Linked DNA regions of Homo sapiens: region 1 is linked to region 2. The links come from fine-mapping of genetic effects on gene expression. A gene starts in region 2. The other region holds a variant in brackets. All regions are shown on one strand. Distances are between the middles of the regions. Region 1 overlaps KEAP1 (kelch like ECH associated protein 1). Region 2 holds the start of PDE4A (phosphodiesterase 4A).

Evidence for each region. PIP is the estimated chance that this variant, and not a neighbour inherited with it, causes the effect.
Region 1: its variant is the best candidate, but not a certain one, in a credible set for the expression of PDE4A in liver (GTEx, PIP 0.72).

Annotation. Positions count from the first base shown.
Region 1 is chr19:10,487,997-10,490,999 of GRCh38, reverse strand. It overlaps KEAP1 (kelch like ECH associated protein 1), which reads left to right. Exons shown (of 6, transcript NM_203500.2): 4 at 1,147-1,352; 5 at 1,632-1,808. Among named protein-coding and RNA genes, the nearest start is that of KEAP1, 14 kb to the left of the region's middle. The variant C/T (reference allele first, on the strand shown) is at 1,258.
Region 2 is chr19:10,419,314-10,421,813 of GRCh38, reverse strand. It overlaps PDE4A (phosphodiesterase 4A), which reads right to left and starts at 1,276. Exons shown (of 15, transcript NM_001111307.2): 1 at 730-1,276. The coding sequence starts at 1,049. RefSeq lists enhancers at 234-423, 1,604-2,483 and silencers at 634-683, 914-1,383.

The sequences.
Region 1 (3,003 bases), 69 kb before region 2:
GGATTCTCCCACCTCAACCTCCCAAAGTGCTGCGATTACAGGTGTGAGCCACTGTGCCGGACCTAAAGGACTCTTTGAGCATCAAAGAGTGATGCTGAATGTGTGATTTCTCCTTTCTGAGATGTTATCTTGTTATCTGTGAAGTGGGGGATCTGGCTGAGCCACTAGGGGTTTATCAGATGTGTTTTTGAACTTGAGCAATTGATGGCTAGGAGGCTCAGTTTTGTCATTTGGAAAATGGAGTTGCTGATACCTCAATCCTTGGAGAACAACTGCAAGCACTAGAGTTCGAGTGGAGGTGGGCACGGTGGTGTGCACCTGTAGTCCCAGCTACTCAGGAGGCTGAGCCAGGAGGGTTCCTTGAGCCCAAGAGTTGATAGCTGCAGGCTGGGTGTGGTGGCTCATGCCTATAATCCCAGCCCTTTGGAAAGCTGAGGCAGGCAGATCACTTGAGGTCAGGTGTTTGAGACCAGCCTGGCCAACATGGCGAAACCCAATTTCTACTAAAAATACAAAAATTAGCCGGGCGTGGTGGTGGGTGCCTGTTATCCCAGCTACTTGTGAGGCTGAGGCTGAATAACTGCTTGAACCCAGGAGGTGGAGGTTGCAGTGAGCCATGCTCTCACCATTGCACTCCATCTCAAAAAAAAAAAAAAAAAAAAAGTTTGAAGCTTCAGTGATTGCACCACTGCACTCCAGCCTGGACAACGGAGCAAGACCCTGTCTCTTTTTTTCTTTTTTTTTTTTTGAGATGGAGTCTCGCTCTGTTGCCCAGGTTGGAGTGCAGTGGCATGATCTCAGCTCGCTGCAACCTCCGCCTCCCAGGTTCAAGTGATTATCTCGCCTCAGCCTCCCGAGTAGCTGGGATTACAGGCATCTGCCATCACACCCAGCTAATTTTTGTACTTTTAGTAGAGACAGGTTTTTACCATGTTGGCCAGGCTGGTCTCAAACTCCTGAGCTCAGGTGATCCGCCCTCCTCGGCCTCCCAAAGTGCTGGGATTACAGGCATGAGCCATCGCGCCGGATGAACCTGTCTCTTTAAGGGGGAAAAAAAAAAGGAAAAAAAAGAGTATCTGGCCCTTAAGTATTCCACGAAGGTCAGCTATAATGGCCATTGTCCCCATTTTTCTTACGCCCTTGCAGGTATGAGCCAGAGCGGGATGAGTGGCACTTGGTGGCCCCAATGCTGACACGAAGGATCGGGGTGGGCGTGGCTGTCCTCAATCGTCTCCTTTATGCCGTGGGGGGCTTTGA[C/T]GGGACAAACCGCCTTAATTCAGCTGAGTGTTACTACCCAGAGAGGAACGAGTGGCGAATGATCACAGCAATGAACACCATCCGAAGCGGGGCAGGTGGGTGGGGACGGTAGGGAGGGGAGCACCCAGGAACACCCCCTACCATCCTGGGGTGAAACTGAGCCAGGCCTGGGAGAGACCCCCTGTTGCAACCCTCATGCTGGGGTAACCACAGAAGCCCTGGATTCTGATAGAGTCCAAGCTTCTCTCTCTCCCCGCTTCATTTCTGAGGGTGAGAAGGGAGAGGAGAGAGGAAAGGTCTCCCTCAAGGAGGTGATGGCTGGGGTTCCCAAAGCCAGACCCCCAGAGTCACCTTCTCTGCATGGTGCCCTTTAGGCGTCTGCGTCCTGCACAACTGTATCTATGCTGCTGGGGGCTATGATGGTCAGGACCAGCTGAACAGCGTGGAGCGCTACGATGTGGAAACAGAGACGTGGACTTTCGTAGCCCCCATGAAGCACCGGCGAAGTGCCCTGGGGATCACTGTCCACCAGGGGAGAATCTACGTCCTTGGTGAGGCCCTGGGGGCGGGGAAGAGTCCTGACTAGCCCATCTTTTGTGGACTGCTTTTGCTTTTGCTTTCCTTTTTTTTTTTTTTTTTTTTTTTTTTAGAAACAAGGTCTCGCTCTGTTGCCCAGCTGGAGTGCAGTGGTGTGATCACAGCTCGCTGGAGCCTCAACAGCCTGGGCTCCAGCCATCCTCCTGCCTCAGCCTCCCAAGTAGCAGGGACCACAGGCGCGCACCACCACACCCGGCTAATGTTTTTTTTCTTTTGAGATGGTGTCTCACAGTGTTGCCCAGGCTGGAGTGCAATGGCATGATCTCAGCTCACTGCAACCTCCACCTCCTGGGTTCAAGCGATTCTCCTGTCTCAGCCTCCTGAGTAGCTGCGACTACAGGCACATGCCACCACACCAGGCTAATTTTTTGTATTTTAGTAGAGACAGGGTTTCACCATGTTGGCCAGGATGGTCTCGAACTCCTGACCTCGTGATCCACCTGCCTCGGCCTCCCAAAGTGCTAGGATTAGAGGCATGAGCCACCGCGCCCGGCCTGTTTTGTTTTTTGTTTTGTTTTGTTTTGTTTTGTTTTTTGAGACAGAGTCTCAGTCTGTTGCCAGGCTGGAGTGCAATGGCACGATCTCAGCTCACTGCAACCTCCGCCTCCTGGTTTCAAGTGATTCTCCCCCATCAGCCTCCCAAGTAGCTGAGATTACAGGCGCCTGCCACTATGCCCAGCTAATTTTTGTATTTTAGTAGAGATGGGGTTTCACCATGTTGGTCAGGCTGGTCTTGAACGCCTGACCTCAGGTGATCTGCCCACCTCAGCCTCCCAAAGTGCTGGGATTACAGGTGTGAGCCACCGCGCCCAGCTTAATGTTTTTGTTTATTTTTATTTTATTTTATTTTATTTTTTTGAGACAGAGTTTTGCTCATGTTGCCCAGGCTGGAGTGCAATGGCGCAATCTTGGCTCACTGCAACCTCTGCTTCCCAGGTTCAAGTGATTCTCCTGTCTCAGCCTCCTGAGTAGCTGGGAATACAGGCACGTGCCACCACGCCTAGCTAATTTTTTTTTGAGATGGAGTTTCACTTTCGTTGCCCATGCTGGAGTGCAATGGCTCGATCTCGGCTCACTGCAACCTCCACCTGGCAGGTTCAAGCGATTTTCCTCCCTCAGCCTCCCGAGTAGCTGAGGTTACAGGCATGC
Region 2 (2,500 bases):
CTCAACACACATGCACCCTCACTATGCTGTCACCTCTGCAGTCAGGGACTCCTTCCCTCTGTGCTGGGACTGCGCCCCCCCTCCACTGTTTCCTGCCTCTGAACAGCTACTTAACGCTAACACTCTTGCCCTGAGAGGGGAACTCCAATCTAACGCAAGGCTCCCAAAACAGTGCTCCCCCAAGAGGCACCCTCTGGATTTCTGACCCCAGCTGCTGCAGGAGGAGTCCACTAACATCCCCGCAATAGAGTCCTCCATCCCCTAGAAGGACCCTGAGAGCACCCCACCCTGAAGTAAAGATCCTGGTCCTAGCAGGCACCCCCTTATGGAGTGCTCCAAGAGTACCCCAAACACTGCGAATCTAGCCCTCAGTATAGTGCCCCCAGGAAGGTCCCTCCAAGTGGTTCCCAGCTTAGCAGCTGTTCTGCACTGTCACCAAGAATACAGACCCCTAAGTGTGCAGCCCCCTTCCCCAACCCAGACCTCGTTAACACCACGCGCAGCGTGGCGCCCCCTAAATGGACCCCAGGATGGGCTTCAGCAGGAAGCCTCCCGTAGAGCGCACAACCAGGGGCCAGGTCCCAGACGCCCCCGCAGCCGAATTCCCTCCGCCCCCGCCAGCCAAACCGACCCCACCCGCATCCTAGCGCCCCCTGCGGCCGGCAGCTCGAGTTGCCTCCTCCCTGCGCGCCCATCCGTTCCGCGCGCATCCGCCGCGGGGAGTCTTACCGCCTGCTGCTGCCTCCGCCCGCGCCGCCGCTGCCGGTGCCAGTGCCATGGAAGGACGAGGGCCAGGACATGCGGGTCGTGCGCAGGCCGGGCCGGTCGCTGGTGTCCATGGCATCGGCGCGCTCTATGGGCCGGTGCGGCTGCCGCTCCCGCTCGGCGCGCTCCGCGCTGTCGGAGTAGCCGCGCTGCTGGATACGGATGGGGGTCCGAGGCTGCCGCCACAGGTGCTGCGGGGGAGGCTTCAGGGTGGCCTGGCCCTCCCGGGGCCCGGGCAGTGACAGAGACAGGCTCCTTTCCGAGGGGACGGTCGGGGGTTCCATGGCGCCGGCCCCCACTTGCGCCCCAGGGGGCCCTGGCCCTTCCAACCTACACCCCGCTCAGCTGCGCGCAAGCCAGCGAGCCCAGGGCCCCGCGGGTGCGCCCGGCCGCGGTAGGGCCATGGCGCCCCGGGGACAGACCCGGGGGCGCTGCGGGCCAATCGCCCCCGGGCCGGGCTCTGCAGCTTCCTTTCGGCGCCTGGAGCTCTGCTCAGTGCCCGGCGGCGCTCTCCGCGCTCCGCGCTCCGCGTTCCGCGGCCCGCTCGGCGCCAGCCCCGGCTCCTCCGCCCCGTCCCGCCCCTCCCCGCCCCCCGCCCGCCGCGGCTGTCAGCGCCGCCCCCCTCCTCCTCCGTCCGGGCCAGCGGGGGGCAGCTACCTAAGGAGGGGGGCCCTTCCCGCCCACGCAGATCCCCGCTCCGGGCTGGGAGGGGGCGCTGGAACTCGTCTGTCTTCAAAGCACCCTGCTTGGCCGCGGCGCGCACAGGCACGAAGGAGTTAAACGGTTAATCCGATCTGGAAGCAGACACCGGACTGGTTGCCAGAGTGTCAGTCAGTCGGTCCATCATGGCGAGGGCGGAGTCCGGTGTTGGCGTGTCCTCGCCGCTACCCCTGGCGGGGGGCAGTTTTTGAGGAGTGGTCCTAGTGCCACCGGCGCGGTACCTGCAGCGGGCGGCGGCAGAGTGTGTGGGATCTCCTGTCTGTGCGTCGGAGGATAGTGATGGTGCGGGCCCGGGGCGGGATGTGCGCGCACGTGGCCTCTTCCGAGGGTTGTCTGTGTTTTCAGTGTCGGCTGGAAGTGTGTGTGCGCACGTGGTTGGCTGCTGTTGTCTGCCCGTTTCTCTGGATTTGGCTGTGTGTATAACTGTGTGTGTCTGTGGGTGAAGGATGTGTGCGCACATGTGCTACCTATTTGGAGGATGTGCATCCCTACGTGGTCTTTTTTCAGGTGGCCTGGGGACTGTGAATGTGTTCTCAAGCGCTTGGATGCGTTTGTGGTCGGTGTGTGCTTGCGGAGTTGTGCACGCGATTCGGCCTCTGTCGTCTGACTGTAGTGTCGGAGGACGTCTATGTATGTTAGTGTGTGCGTGTGCGTGAGTGTATGTGTGTGGTCGGCCTGGGGCCTCTGGGGTGTTTCTGGGGTGTGTCCCATTGGTTCCCTTGTGGCTCCAGGAAGACACCCTGTGGCGGATACCGCAGCTGCCGGCCCACCGCTCTATACATCGCTGCCTCTTCTAAAGCGCTTCTGCCAGAGGTAAACTGAGGAAGGTCCCAGGTAGCCGCGGAGCGCACCCCCGTGCCCTTTTCAGGCGAGTAAACAGGCGAGCCTCCTCCCTGCGGCCCCCGCCAGCAGAGCCCCCCTTCCGGCACCTAAATCGGGAGTCGCCGTGACTCACGCTCCCGCCTCCCCCAGCGCCGCGCCGAGCGAGCAAGCAGAGAGCGAGCGGGATCCGAGT